2 separate regions of the Homo sapiens genome follow, and region 1 is linked to region 2. Evidence: fine-mapped expression QTL. Tissue or cell type: putamen. Region 2 holds a variant in brackets; the other region holds the start of a gene. All regions are shown on one strand. Distances are between the middles of the regions.

Region 1 (8,110 bases), 350 kb before region 2:
CTGACAGAGAGCACACCTGGCAGAGCAGCTTCTCCAGTCGGGACCAGCCTAGCGGGATCCTTCCTCCATGGCCAGGCAGAGGGCTCCACCCGCGAAGCGGCCTGTGGGGTTGGTGGAAGGGCGGAGAAGCTCTCGCTCCAGGTACCAAACTAAGCCGAGAAAAAAGGGTAAAAAATCGAAAAGAAAGAGCAAATGAAGCGGAAGTTTCAAGGCTCTCTGCGAGGAATAACAGTATAAATAACCGAAGACGTCTTGTAAACACTGCGGTCATAACCCCGAACATTAAACAGCCCCGGTGGCATCTGGCGCATCGGCCGCCGCGGGCTGCGCTGGGGCAGTGAGGGAGCCGGGTCGCAGGCTCCTCGGCCTTGCTTCTCTGTTTATCTCAACTTAATCTTCCCTTAGGAGCTGTTCCGTAGCCTGGAAAATGTTTAAATTAAACCCAGTCCGCCGGAAGTCGTGGCGGGAGCTAAACGCACCCGCTAACAGCAACCAAAAGGCAGGCATGCGGGTTTATTGTTAGAATTAATTAATGGACTATTAATAAGAAATGTAGATAATGTATGCTGCAGAGCTTTGAAAATCCTGAAACACACCCTAAGGGTTATGGAATTTACATCTTTCATAGCTTCTATTATTTCTTCACTAGTTTGCAGCTATGCTCACACCTGGAAGGTGACAAAAGGTGGAGTTTACTTTCTCGCCCGTGTCAGCAGTCATACGGTGGAATCCATGAAAATTGGATTTCCTTTTTCTGGTGCGTTTTACTCTTGAACTGTATAACTGTGGATAACTTTAATACTGCCCATTCTTTGTTTTCAGTTATATAATTTCTATTAGCCTTAAAAGTAACCGATATATTTCTTTTTTAAGGTTTCAGTATAAAACATAATCTGCATCTTCATTATGAAACTCATATGCAATTTTCTTCTATCTCTAGAAGTTTAGATTGAGGTTTAAAAGAACCATTTTCATTATCAAGCTTCCCCATAGTTTCCCACTTTCTTATTCCAAATATTTTTAAAAATCACTCCAAATATCAGAGCTTTTAGCAATATAAAGAAAGATTTATTTTCAAAAGTAGCAAAACTTGTTTGAAAAAAATATATATCTTTAAGTGAATTACTTTATAAATGTGACTGTCAAAGTCAGCTATCCTATGATCTACATTTTACAACATATTGTACAAAAGATACATTGATAGGCTCTTATCTATTTATATATTTATAATTACATATTGCACTTGGACCAGCAAGGCTTGCAGAGTCATTCACGGTAGAAGTTAATAAAGTTAAATAGATGGGAATCTTTGTAAGTACAATTGATCTCCTCTGGTTTGGAAACGAATCTCCTCGTCGTTGTAAAGTGTTCTCGCGGGGTGGGACAGAGAGAGGAGCATTGCGAGGGGGAAGCAGAGACAGAGAGCACTGAGGGCAGGGGTCGCCTTCCCGGGGCCCGCTCCCCCCGGGAGCGCGCCTTTCCCAGACTCGCACCTCCAAGGTCAGGACGCGGTGGTTCCACATAAGCGGCTCGCGGTCACCACTTCTTTCAGGTCACTCTCGGGTTTCCCGGCCACCATAAAGGGCCACGTCTGCGGGAAAGAAGAGGGTGGAGGAGGTAAGTGGCCGTGGCGGAGGGGGTGGGGTGGACTCGGGGCCTGAGATGAAAGGAAGGGGGGCGGTGGGGGCAGGCGGTGCTCTGGAGAGACCGGTTATCTCTGCAATTTACTCCCGGTCCTAGCGCACCCTGCGGCTGCATAAAGCAAATAGCTGCTTTGGCGCCAAGTCACAGCTCGAGGTGGTGGTGGTGCTGGTGGTGGTCTTTTAGAATGAGAGCCAAAAGGGCTTATACTGGGTTCCTTGTGAGACTCAATGCAGGAAGCCCCGGGCAAGCCGAGAGTGGGAGAGTGGGTGGTGCTGTGGCACTGCCTGGAGGCAGACGCTTTGGCAGTCTGAGCCGGGAAGCCCAGAACGACCTTGTGCCTACTGGGCACCGAGTTCGGGGCGAAGCGCCCTCCTGGCCTCCTTCTGAGGCGGTGGTCGGGTTTCAGGGCCCTGTCGCTTTCATCGCCTTTCATCACCATCTATTTCCCTAGTCCGACTTTCGTTTCTTCCATCGCAAACACCGGCTTTGACTACAGCTTCTAGATTAATCACCACCTCTTAAGGAAAAAAAAATGCTATACTACATTGACTTTTAATTTAAGATCGTCTTCATGCTGGACTGAGAAAGTATGCTTTCTCTTCCTTTCTCCGGGCTGTTTTATAATAAAGCTCATTTAAGTTTCTTATTCAAAGATGAAGAGAGTAGCAGTTGTAAATATTCGAGGCAACACTTTCATTTTAGGTGGAGATTTTAAAAAGCTATTTACTCATTGGGGGGGAAAAACCCCAAACTTTCAATTGGAGAGAAAACATTTTTCATGGTAAAATGTGGGTTTGCATCTTCTTCTCCAGCAATTCCAGAAACCAATTCGGTGAGAAGACAATTCAGACCCCTCTCACTACTGCTCTAGTGCTAGCTGATAAGACTTGCCTTTTAAAAGGAAAAATCTCTCATTCTTATCATATACAAACAGAGATCCTAGTAAGTTGTTGTTATTGTTTTTCTTTAGATCTTAGAAGTTTTAAAATAAAATCAAATGAAAAAAATTAAGATATATTTCTTAAACAGTAAAATACATTTGAGAAAAAAGTAGACTCAATGATTATCAGTTTTTTGTGTTAAAAAATTAGGCTCAATGGGCATTACTTTTTAAGATAAAAGGTAACATTTCTTAAATCTTGGGTGAGAGTGACCTATTTTAGTATTTATTACACTCATACTAGTGAGGATTTACTGATTTTGCTGATCATTACTAGAACTTCTGGGATTTAAAAATATTAATCCACTTATAGGAGAAGCACAGAATATTTAAGCGGTTAAGGGCTTACGTGGACAATTTGGGGGGCATAGATGTGTCCTTATCCAATGGTCCTAAATATGCTTGTGAAAGAAACGGAGTTGGGTGTTTTTATTTACAAGGAAAGGAAAATCAAGTTCCACTCTCTGCTAAAAGAAGAAAAAAGGATTAACAAAATGCCTGTCCGCTCGCAGCGTCTTGTCAGTGTTCTCAGTTCCGCAGCAGCCACTGCACCCCAGGGAGGATGGCGATGGAGCGGGAGCGGGGGATCCCTCCTCTGTGCCAGCTCAACACACTTGCAAACTTTTAATTGGGCTGCCACGTCAAACCCTCGCATAAATCACTCCCGCTCCGGGGGCTGGTAGGGCAGAGAGCGAGGGCCGTGTCTAGACCGCCCGCCTCCGGTCCCTGGAGGCTCTAGGCCCGCGGTGGTCGAGATGTGTAAGTCACCGCCGCGCCCACACCCCCACTCCCAGCCCCGCGCGCACTCGCGCCCACCGCAGGCGGGAGTGCGGGCGCGCCTGGACTGCAGCTGCAGCCCCGGGAGCACTCACCAGGTTGACCGGGTGAATGTACCCGTTCTCGTATTTGTCGTTAGCCAGGATCTGCCTCAAGTGGGCGATGTAGCTGGACGCCAGCCTGAGCGTGTCCAGCTTGGAGAGCTTGGTGTCGGGGGGCACCCAGGGCAGGGTGGTCTTGAGTCTGGAGAAGGCCTTGCTCAGCACTCGCATGCGGGCCCGCTCTCGCGCGTTGGCGGCGTTGCGCTGGACCTGCTTCCCCTCCTGGCTGACCCCGCTCAGGGGGCTCTTCTTGGTGGGCGCCTTCCTCCTCTTGCCCAGGCCGCCGCGGCCCTTCTGGGGAGACCCATTCTCGCAGTTGGAGCTCTCCTCGGTGCTCTCGTTGGAAGTCACAAATTCCTTGTTCGAATCCATTTTCAACCCGTCACATTCCAACATCTCCACCTCTTGAAGGTCCTCCACATCGCTGAGGGAGCCGGTGGACATGTTTGGGGGAGTGGACGAGGGAGAGAGAGAGAGAGAGACAGAGAGACAGAGAAAGCGAGGAAGAGGGTGAGAGAGAGACAGAGAGACCCTGAAACCAAGAGGCCTCCCGAGTGTGGCGCAGCCACCTCCTGCTGGGAGCTGGAGTTGGGGTCTGGTTGGGTCTCACAACCCTTTCCCCTTCGCAGAGTTGTGAGAAGGAACCCCGAGGACTTCTGCAGCAGAGGAACCGGCTCTCTGTTTCCCCACTCCCAGAGTCGTGGCCGTAGAGGAGGGTGAGCGAGCGCTGAGGAATTTGGTGGACACTAGGAATTTATCTGGGGAATAGAGGGGCGGATCCTTGCAGCCCAGGGAGGGGCCTGCCAGGCCCCAGCAAAGCGCTTAGACCCCTTTCACAACCGGAGGGAAACTCAATGCACAGACCCTGATTTGCAACTTGTAATGTAAATCAACTCAACTGCATCATGTACTTACCAGCCACCTTCTCCCAACTGTGGCCGGGGCCGAGAAGCAGCATGTTCTGTCCATCTGTAAAAGGCCTTCTTTCTCTCTTAAGACGTCACAACTGGTTGTTACTGAGAACTTTAGAAAAACGACTAGATCGTTTGGCTCTTTCTGGGCCTTCCACCTACACTCCATGCCCTCTCTCCTCCCAAGAAAACACGAATTAAAATACAGGGAGTATCAACCGCATCCTGCCAACACCTCATAAGACTCCAAGGCTTTACCGAGATCTTCCACCTTCCCCGGGATAAATGAAGACAAGTGCTTCCTAGAATCTTTATGGTGATGGAAAAGTAAGTATAAAACATTTCACCTACACCTGGTCATTTTCAAGACATCAAAGGACTGCCTACGTGTACACAAACATACTTGATTTGCACACTCAAACCCAACCACACACAGCTTAGTGGGAGTGGGTAGGGAATGAGAGGGCAGTATGAGTGTGTGGAAAACATTATGTTAGTTGATCATCTTTTCCTAATAAATGGAAACTTTCCCCTCGGTTTTTTTTTCTTTTCTAGAAATGCATTTAATATTGCCTTGAGAGTCTTTGTTGCTCTCAGACATCACCTTGCCTGGCACTTTTTGTGATGCACCGTCCCTTTCAATGCTGCTGTCTTTGTCTTCTTCCAGCCTGTTAGGTGCCAGTGTTCCTCACATGAAGCTGACATTACACAACACAAAGCAAGACTATCCTTTTGAGAAAGGTTCTTTTCCATCTTTAACCCCAGCTCGAACCACCTTTCCTAGAGAATAAGAAAGTCTCCTGGGAAGTAGGTAGAAAAAGCACAGGGAAACAGAACCTAGGGATTGGATGAAATTGGTGCAATGAAACCAGGGAGACTGAAGGCATAAATCTCTCTTACAATTTCTTTGCCAGGTTTTCTTCCCTTGCAGGTAGGCATTGAAGTTGAGGGGCTGGAGCAAAATGTAAGAGTGGTTTCTGAGTGGTTGGCTTAGGGTCTGAAGGCTTCTCCTACATTAAGATATCATATCTCTAATCCTAGGCTCAGCTGGGAATTCACTAACCTCTAACGTTTTGTTTTGCTAGCAGGGTCTTGTTTGCTTTCCCCCTATGCTGTAAACTAAACAGGTTGTCAGCAAATCAGTCTTTATTAATGAATTAGCGACCCCTCTTCCATAATATCTTCGCTGAGGATCCAAAATTTGTTAATCACCAGTGTAGAGATTTATGAGCTCTCTTATTTTCTGTTGTTTGTGCAGGTGGAGATTTAAATGACCACATCCACCCTAAGATTTATTGTGAGAATGATTGATGTTATAAACCAGGAAAAGGACTCTTCCCACAGCAGGGATGACAGAAATATCAAGTTGAAGTTGCCTTTGTCTTCACATACGAATGACCCAGTACTACAACACAGAAAGTATAATAATTTAATCTGAGGTTCAAGACAGCAGTGAGAGAACACCCAGCAGGCCTGTTAAAAATTTCTTCACTAATTCCTCAACTAGTTTCCTTTGATTTGCTCTCCCTTTTCTCAGTCTTGGTAAAACATGAAAGTTAAAGTTATTTTTAGACTAAAGAGCTATGTGAAAATGGGCATTGGCCAATACTTTGTGAAATGTGTGTGTGTGTGTGTGTGTGTGTGTGTAGCTACTAAGATATCTGCAAAATAACTACAAATAATTAATTTGGGCTCTGGAATGTGATAATTATTATAAATCCAAACTATGGCCTTACTGCATACATTAAGCTGTGATTTTTCTTGTTGGAGCCATTTTTTTTTCTTTTTGGCTCTGGGTCTCTGTTACACCTTAGTTAATGGACTGCTCAGGCTGTCTGGGGAGATAGTAAAAATCATAGTAATATGTACCACTGAAAAGATTTCTGTTGTCTGTATATTTTTCAATGTTGGAAACTTAAAAGTACCAATTTCTGGAAGCATGTAAAACTAGCCTCATGTCATAGGCTGGTTTTTATGCTTAGCAATTATTTTTCTTCATAGCCATATAAGAAATAATTAAGTCCCATGTCCATTTATCTTGCAGTAAGACATTTGGGCTGAGAAAGGCTAGTGGGCTGATAATAAATTTTGGAGTGTTTCTAAAATTCTGTAAAAGATGGCTTCCAGTTTGGGAGTAAGAGTCGAAGAATACTGTTGCTTATGTATCTTGATATGAAGTCTTGGAGAGAGAATATTCATATGAAAAATACTTTTTTTCTTTTAAAATTTTGTGTCTATCCCTGCTAATAAACACTTAGGGACAAATGGGTGGGAGAAATGACTTCTTGTTGGATTCTACTGAGCAAGTCATTTAAGCTGTAACTTAAGCTGTGCCAAATTCTCCCAAAATATAAACTATATTCTGTGAGAAGACAAGCACTTTTGAGAAGCTGTATTAACCCTTTTGGTAAGTTGACCATTTCTGTTCCAAAGCACGAAATAGAAAACTCGTGATTTGAAAGTATGAGATCATTTCTAAAAGTTCTTACCTGACTTTTAAGAAACATTTATGCCCCAGAGGCATCTGGCCAATTTGCTGCTCACTTCTAACAATTTGTTTTGCAAGAGAGACTATCTTTGAAAGATTTTAGTGCTAAGGAAATTTTATCTCTGAAAGCTGTAAAATGAAGATTAGGCATGGAATGTACCCTTGAACTTAAATCCTGGTTTATCAGCTGATACATTTACAGGAAGTTCAAATTTGATTCAGTTGCACTTGGATGGAATAATTTGCTTCCTTTTTTATGAGAAGGAAAACATCATAGGCTTCCTTTGAACTGACTTCATATGCCATTACATAATCTTTCTCAGGGGAAAAATATGCCTTTAAATTTAAATGTTAATCCTTTTCTCTTACTCCTCATCATTTGGTCAGGAGACACAGGCTGGCAAATTGGCAAAACTGCCCATTCTCTTTTTTCTTCATTTCTAATTAGCACCTCCAGATGTTTTATTCATTTTATTTGATGGTAACTACCACCACTTCAAATATTTGCCAACTTTCTATGCAAAAAAAAGTTGACGCCTTTTTTTTTTCTTTTTTTGATGGAGTCTTGCTCTGTCACCCAAGCTGGAGTGCATCAGCACGATCTAGGCTAACTGCAACCTCCGCCTCCCAGGTTCAAGAGATTCTCATGCCTCAGCCTCCCGAGTAGCTAGAATTACAGGTGCCTGCCACCATGCCTATCTAATTTTTGTATTTTTAGTAGAGGTGGGGTTTCACCATTTTGGCCAGGCTGGTTTCAAACTCCTGATCTACCCACTTCAGACTCCCAAAGTGCTGGGATTACAGGCATGAGCCACCGTGCCCAGCCAGGTGCCTCTTTTTTGATTTTACATAATTATCTCCATATACTTTGTTTGCTGCTGATTGACTGTTGTCTATCTCCCGCTTATATGCCTATCAAACTCTGACTTTGTTTCATTAAATTTTAACTTTATTTAATAAAGTGAGCATTACCTCTCTTTGCTCATTCTAAATTATAGTGGTGCTGTCCTGTTATATTTTGGCAGCCAAAGTGAATATGGCACTAGTGAGCTTGGTGGCTAGCTAAGAAGGTCAATAACAGTGATGCTGGGTATTGCTGCTACCTTTACCTGGCACCAGCTGGGAGATGGTATAAATCCTGGATGGTATAAATCCATTCAGTAATTAGAAGTCTTCTGCGTGTTCACTATACCTTAACCCCCTCTTTTCACATTTAATTCAGTGAATTGTAGATAAGATGCCACATTGC
Region 2 (8,110 bases):
CGGTTTGTAGTTAATAAACATGATTAAACTAAATGTTCAGAAGGAAATTTTGCTAGACCATTTTTTTAAAAAAACAAAACACAATGAATGCACTCATTAATTATGTACAATTTTGTCATTGGGTAAAGAAAGAAATTTCAGGCTAGGAAGGCAACTTATTCCTAGACATAACGTTAAATAAATACGTGCCTTCAAACTTGAATTATTGCCCTGTAAAAAGACAGACAAATGTCTCAGCAACAGCTTCATTACTGTCAAGCTCATGATTTGTTGTTCCATTGACATGATGATGTGCTTTCTAGCACTAAGGTCTTGTCTGTTGTTGCAATAGAAACTCTTATTTTTAGAATTTATCATTTAGTTATTTAAAAAAAAGTTATAGTTGATCAAAAAGCATGGTAAATAAGCTCTCAGTATGCGTGCCAGTATGGGTGTATTGGAGTTACATTAGAAATGGGAGAAAAGGAACACCTATACACTCCTAACTACTACGCTAGTCCTGTTAAGCAGAATGTTGGAGGCTTAACGTGATTCAGCAGTGCCCTTTCTATTTAACACATTGCTTGCCTATGGGTGGAACTGTCATAGGTCAGGGTTATAGGTCACACATTTTTCCAAAGAAGAAAAATTAAGGAGTGGTCATAGGATGTGGCATCCTATTCACTAAGTGAGTTCTAAATTGCATTTCACAGATAATTTGATGTGGTTATGGGATGGCGCTGGAATGCAAGAAACAGATGGAGCACTGCAATTCTAGTCCTGGATATCTGTGTTCTTAAGAGGTGTGGCCAAATCGCAGGGTGACACAGAGTGAGGTGCCAGGATTCATCCAAAGCACCACAGTTTAGAGGGGAAAATATTTTAAAGTAACAATGTTAAACTATTGTGAGACATTTGAAGCCCCTTTCCTTATAAATAACTATCCATCTCTTCCTAGTCTCACATGTCTTGGCCACTATATAGCTGGAAAGAGCAGAAGACCTAGGGAATAACACAGTCAGGAGTCCCAAACTCACTTTTTATAATTTGAGTAATCGACTCCAACATCCTTTCTTCTTTAACATCTTTTATTCTAATCAATCCTAAGCACTGACTAGAGGGCATGCTTTGAGCTGCTGGTTCCAAGAATTAACATTTCCAACTGGACATTCATGCATACTCTCTTGACCACAGATGACAGAAACTAAAGTCAATCAAGTTCAAGGAAAAAAGAATAAAAAAGTTTTGGGCTTACAAAACTAGAAATTCCAGGCATGGTCACTGAGTTGAAGTTCTGTCTCCTGACATCCTAAAACCAAATTCTCTGACAGCATCAACAGGGCATGGGTTCTGAGCTGTTTCCCACATGTTGGCTTCATATTCAGATTCTCTCTCAATGTGGTAGGAAAGATGGTTCTGGCATTTTAGGCTGACATAGTCACCAGAGATCCTAATCCCAGAAAGACAGTGCATCTTTCATAATGACTTTGGAGAAAAGTCTTGGGGTGAGTTTTCATAGGCTTAGCTTGGGTCCTGAGCCCATTCTTGGGCAAATAAATATGACAAAGAGGGTGGAATATGTTGATTGGCTAGGGTTCAGCCATATGCCCAGGAGTATGGTGTTCCCTAAAAAGAGGGATGCTTTGTATACACACAAAAGTCAAGTTTACTATGGAAATGGTAACCCAAGGAATGGGAGAAAATGTCTGCAAATCTTGTATCTGATGAGGAGTTAATATCCAGAATATACAATTCAACAACAACAACAAAAACAACCCAATTAAAACATGGGCAAATGATTGAATTGACATTTCTCCAAAGATATACAAATGGCCAATATGCCATAATCATTAGGTAAATGCAAATTAAAACCACAATAAGATATCACCTCACACCCATTAGCATGGTTACTATAAAAAACAAACAGAAAATAACAAGTGTTGGTGAAGATGTGAAGAAAAGGAATTTTTGCACACTATTGTTAGAAATGTAAAGTGGTGTGGCTGCCATAGAAAGTATGGCAAGTATGGTAGTTCCTCAAAAAATTAAACATAGAATTACACAAGATCCAGCAATTCCACTTCTGGGTACATATCCAAAAGAACTTAAAGCAGGGACCCAGTTATTTGTATACCCATGTTCATAGCATCATTATTTGCAAGAGCCAAAAGGTAGAGGCAACCTAAATGCCCATCAATGGAAAAATAGAGAAACAAAATATAGTATACACACATATTATTAGTCAGCCTTAAAAAGGAAGAAAATTCTAACATAGGCTACAAAACAGGAGAACCTGAAAGAAATTTTGTTAAATGAAATCAGCCAGTCACAAAAGGACAAATACTATATGATTCTGTTTATATGAGGTACTTCAAGTAGTCAAATTCGTAGAGACAGAAAGTGGAGGAGTTGCTACAAGGTACTAAGGGGAGAGGAGAATGGGAAGTTATTGTTCAATGGGTAGAGTTTTAGTTTTAGAAGATGAAAAGAGTTTTGTGGATGGATGGTGGTGACAGCAGCACAACAATGTGGATGTACTTAATGCCATTGACTGTACACTTAAAAATGGTTAAGATCGTTACCTTTATCTGTATTTTACCACAATAATAAAAAAAAAAATCATCTCCACTAGGCGGAGGTTGCAGCGAGCTGAGATTGCGCCACTGCACTCCAGTTTGGTGACAGAACAAGACTCCGTCTCAAAAAAAAAAAAAAAAAAAAAATCATCTCCACTATAGAATTTCAGAAAAGAGGTAAACTTGGCTACATAGCTTTTCTCCACTTACCCTTTAGGAACTTGCTTCTGAACATCTTCCATTCAGATACTCCTAAAATCATAAATCATGCTGACTCAATGCTCCATCATGGTTTATTTTTCCTATATTAGGTGGCCCCAGAACCTTCCTAATTCCCCACTCTAATCAGAAGCCTGTCCAGTACCCTTCTTGGAACCATGCTGTAGGTTAGGGAGCCTGTAAGTCTGTTGTATTAAGAGCAGTTGATATGCATGCTTAAAGGTGTTTTAAAAGGGAGGAATCTGCAAAATGTATCTTAACTTAAATGCAAATTAATTGAGCAGCTTTAATTGAATAGTTATCTCTTGGGCCTTCATATAGGACTGGATATAATTCCAATCATCAAGTCAAATAATCAGCTTAGGGTCCTTTTACTGCTTATCTGCAGAACTAACATTCCTACTACATAAAGGCCATTTCTCACATAGGCAACACAGGAGTTACTTGGATGGCAATTATATTCACAGAGAGAAAAAACAGTGACAGTTAACTCCATTGCTTGCAATCTCACCTGCTCTTGATGGCACTTTCCCTCAGATCATACCCCTTCAAGTGCTAAACAACTCAACTGAAGTCAATGGACAGAAGATATGGTGCAATGAGCCTATTTTGCAGTCCAGATAATTTCCACCTAATGGACTAAGTTCCAATTCTGTCTGTGCTACCTACAGGTTGTATAATCTTGGGAGGTCACTTCAACTATACAATTGGACTAAGAACACTGACTCTCGTGGGTGTTATAATTAAATCAGGTAAT[A/G]TATGGTAAGGTAAGCATTGATTAGTCTCTTCATTAGTTGATTAGCCTCTTCAAATGTTAGTTTGATTAGTCTCTTCAAACGTTAGTTTCCTTCCTCTTTTCAGTATGCTCGCTGAAAAGCTGGCTACAGAGCGAGTGACTGAATCAAAGCATCACATCCTACATGCTCCCATTCCCCATCTTGCTACAGTGGTACCAGCTTCTGTGCCCAGAAGATGGTGCTGTGGTTGGATGAATAAAACAATTACAGGGCCTTCAAGGATAAGAAGAAGGAACATGGATAAATATCCCCATTCTGCCTAGACAGAAATAAGAAAAACATTCCCTTTTCTCTTCTTTAAAACGAATTCTTGAGTCATGCATGGCAACAATATGTGTTGCCAAAAGTGGCCAGTTTGTGGTAGTAGGTTTTATTCAGAAAATCAGTGGGTGATGAAAATTTAGAAGATGCACTCATCATTTGTAAAACTGTAGATGAAAGTTTAAAAGATGATGTTATACCACTTTTTCTTCACTGCCCTCATCAGTGGCTCCATCCCACCCTCCTGCTGTTCTCATAACTGATGTAGAAATAATTTCATGAGCCAAACAGGATGGTTTTATACGTGTGTGTTTGGCATTAACTTTATTTCCTATTCACGTACCAGATATTACTGCCCGCTCTTATGAAATAGTTTATTCCACCATAAATGTATGTTTTAATGATCACCACATTTTTTTGGAATACATTAATCTGTCTAAAAATAGGTGATTAAATCATCTGTCATTCTGCTGTGAAGCTCTTTAATGTTTTCTTTGGGAAATAAATTAGAATGCCATATTGGTTTCCAAGCAGACATAAGCTGGCGATGACTTTTTTGTACAAAAGTTACTGATGAAAAGCTCATAGAGGCATTTGGATTTCTTCAGGGTTGTAAATCCAGGTATGTTACTACTTTATCTACTGGAAATTGGGGTAATGCAGGAGATGGGAAAGCATGATGTTAAATCAACTGGTGACCCCAAATAATTTTCCATGGTGTTCATCAGCCATGCACACACTGTATTACTGTCATCATTCCTAGCTTTTCCACTATGCTGTCTCAAGTTTGCACAAATTGTAAGTGATTTTAAATCATTAACTGATGTGACATAATCAAATTACTTAGGGTTTTATTTACTGTGCTCCGAGTAATTCAGTTATGACTTGGCAAGGTATTTAACAGACAATAGTGAAGTTACTACAAATTCAACTTTGCATTGGACAACTCCATTTGAGGATACCACCACCTTCAAATTAACAATTCCAGAAACTGGTCTCAGTATCTCGTTCCAACAACAAGCATCACCCACTACAATAAAAACAGCAAGTAGAATCTTTTTACTTCTTTTGTGTTTCTCATCTCGGCAAACTGCACTACAATCTACCAAACTGCCCGAGCCAGAAACCTAGAGGTCAGGCTGGATTTTCCTGAGGACATGAGGTGAAGAAGCAACCACTGCGAAGTACTAAGGTATTCTTAATACCCTAATTTCTTTGAATCTATGCACTGTCTCATATTCATGCCCATCACCTAATTCAGGAATCTCTCCAGGATCCTGCACCAGCCTCTTAGATCCCTCACTCTCCTCAGCCTGGCCAGAGTAACTATTATAAGATATAAACTGGGACACATAAATCCTCTGTTAACAAACCTTTCATTCAGTACCTACTGATACCCGAGTAAAACTGAAATTGGTTGATGCTGTATTAAAAATCCTCACCAAGTGGCCCTTGTTTTTTTTTCAGTCTCATTTCTTACTATTCCTTTTATTCACTCCATGCTTCAGAAACAAGAATTACTTGCAGTTCCCTGACTACACCATTCTACCCTTCTCCCTCTTACCTGCATTCTCTTACATATTTTCCACTTTGCTTATATGCTTCCAATCCAGTCCTGCAAATGCTCTGGCCTTCTCGGTTTTGTCCTTGGGGCTTCAGCTTTGGACTCATTTTCTCCAAGAATCTTCCCTTTAAGGGCTGGTTAGGTTTCTCTGCAAGTGACTCACCATGCCCCTGTGCTTATCCCCTGCTAACACCCTTCATTCGTTATCTTAAGAGTCACCCCGATTGAAAAGCATAAGAACCTTAAGGGTCAGGACTGTGATGAGTTTAGGGTCAGCAGTACTCTGCTGTGGTTCTGTGGAGGATGATTTACTTGGTGGTCCCTCTACCTTTTCCAGTACACCCTCTTTCAATTCTATGTATTTTCACTGAAGGCTCACCAGAAAACTAAAATGGCAGCATCATAGCAGACATAAGGCACACAAATCTAAGATTTCATGACCACAAAGGACAATGCATTGCCCTTTAGCCATAGAGACACTGTCCCTGCAAGCTGCAATCAAAAGGCATTTTGTTGGGAGGGAAAATAGTCATCTGGCTTATATGGAGTTATATGCATTGTCAGAGATCCTTTAGCATATTACATTTGGAGATCTTTCAAACTGTGTGCTAACACAGACCTGGAAGGTTCTGTGGATGAAGGAAAAGCTAAGGAATAATGGCTACTATTTCCATTGAAAGTCAGAACTTGGGCACAATGAACATTTTCCCCTTGAGGCTCTGAGAGGGCATCTTTGTTGATTGCAGTATATCTCAAGAATTGACTCTGGCACAGTCAAATGTAGACTGCTTTGTGTAGCGACCTGTGTATTAGCACACATGCATACTTTGCCAGAATTACATCCAATAACTTTTAAAGAATATACAAAACCATGCAGAGATGTTAAATAATGGTTATTAGTCTGGGTGCAGTGGCTCACACCTGTAATCTCAGCACTTTCGGAGTCTGAGGCAGGAGGATTGCTTGAGTCCAGGAGTTCGAGGTTACAGTGAGCTATGATGGTGCCACTGCACTTCAGCCTGGGCAACAAAGCAAGACCCTGGATCAAAAAATAAATGGTTCTCTTTTGGTAACTAAACAACATCCGACACTTAAAATTTTTTTTGTTGTTGTTTGTTTCAGGGACTCAGAATCATGAACCACAGTTTGCAGAGAGATCTGATTTTTACATGTTTGTTTGTGTGTGGCTTTAAGTAATGTAAGTCAATTAAGCCTACTAATATTGCATACTTTTTCTTTTATGAAAGGGAAAAAGGGAGTATAAAGGAGGCAATCGCTGATTCATTGTAAACGTTTTTTATCCAGACGATCATTCTCAGGTCACATACAACCTTTCTTCAATTACATCTTTGCTTATGGCCATCCTTGTTCTTTATTTCCATAAATTAGGCCAGCAAATACTCCAGCTAAGGTATAAAAACTTACACAGGTCCTGTGTATGTTTTCTTCTCTCCTTTTCCCTTTCAAATCTAGCTCGATCATTTCTTTTCTTTTCTTTTTTTTTTTGAGACAGAGTCTTGCTCTGTCTTCCAGGCTAGAGTGCAGTGGCGTGATCACAGCTCGCTGCAGCCTCCACCTCCCAGGCTCATGCGATCTTCCCGTCTTGGCACCATGAGTAGCTGGGACTACAGGCACGCACTATCACATCTGGCTATTAGAAAAAGAGAGACAGAGAGAGAGACAGGGTCTCTCTATGTTGCCCAGGCTGGTCCTGAACTCCTGAACTCAAGTGATCCTCCCACCGGCCTCCCAAAGTGCTGGGATTATAGGAATGAGCCATCACACATGGTCCTCTACCACTTTAAATCTCTTCAATTCTAGATCATGCTCATGCAAGTGTTTTCCTGAAGTTTATACATTGTAATGGATGAATCAACAACACAAAAAATAAATGTGTATCATGCTGGATTAATCTAAGAACTAAGTATTTTTTCTTAGTAAAGAAGGAAAATGCTAGAGGTGTTGGGAAGCAGGTGCAATTTCAGAGAGGAGGACCTTTACAGCAAAAAGGTGTTCTTTAAGAACTGAAGAAACCCAGGGCATAGGTGATGCAAAGATCTGGGTGAAAACCTTTTCAAGTGGAAGGAATGGTGAGTGCAAAAGGCCTGCAGCAGGTGGGTGGGTGCAGGTATGTGCCAAACACGGAGGTGCCAGTTTGGCAGTGAGTTGTGAGACAGAGGAAGGGAGAGCTCACCAGGGATGCTGCCTGTGGGCTTACAGGCCATTGCAAAGGTCACTGGTGTTTGTGCCAAGCGAGCTGGTGGTTTCCAAGAAGAGGAGAGAGATATCCTCTGATGCACGGTATGTTTCTGGCTAGTGTGATGAGATGGTGAAAGGGTGTGAGGGCCAGAGAAGGGAGACTAAGCTAGAGGCTGATGTACTTATCTATGTGAGAAAGGATGCTGGTTTCAGCTGGGGTGGTAGTCGTGGGAGAGGTGAGAAGAGGCCGGCGCAGAAGCACAAGCTCAGATTTGGACATGTTGATTTGAGAGGTCGTTTCTTCCAAGCAGGTATATAAATAGGCAAACAAGATACATTTGTTTGGAGTTCAGTGGGGAGCTGGAATACGATATGTATAATTTAGTCTTTCTCATAAATTCAATTTCAATGGCAACTGGATATAAGAGAAAACAAAAGAAGTTTACATATTAAATTTATTTTAAACATTTCCATTGTTTTCCTGTAAATCAGTATTGATTTTTGGATGGTGTAAG

The links. PIP is the estimated chance that this variant, and not a neighbour inherited with it, causes the effect.
Region 1: TARID starts here. The variant in region 2 is fine-mapped to the expression of TARID in putamen (GTEx, PIP above 0.99). The same link has a PIP of 0.9 or more in nucleus accumbens.

The regions. Positions count from the first base shown.
Region 1 is chr6:133,885,194-133,893,303 of GRCh38, reverse strand. TARID (TCF21 antisense RNA inducing promoter demethylation) reads left to right here and starts at 4,298. Exons shown (of 9, transcript NR_109982.1): 1 at 4,298-4,700. TCF21 (transcription factor 21) reads right to left here and starts at 4,191. Exons shown (of 2, transcript NM_003206.4): 1 at 3,457-4,191; 2 at 1,047-1,591. The coding sequence starts at 3,906. The coding sequence ends at 1,502. RefSeq lists enhancers at 220-828, 1,714-2,478, 3,730-4,643.
Region 2 is chr6:133,532,694-133,540,803 of GRCh38, reverse strand. It overlaps TARID (TCF21 antisense RNA inducing promoter demethylation), which reads left to right. Exons shown (of 9, transcript NR_109982.1): 6 at 3,446-5,024. Among named protein-coding and RNA genes, the nearest start is that of EYA4-AS2, 80 kb to the right of the region's middle. The variant A/G (reference allele first, on the strand shown) is at 3,532.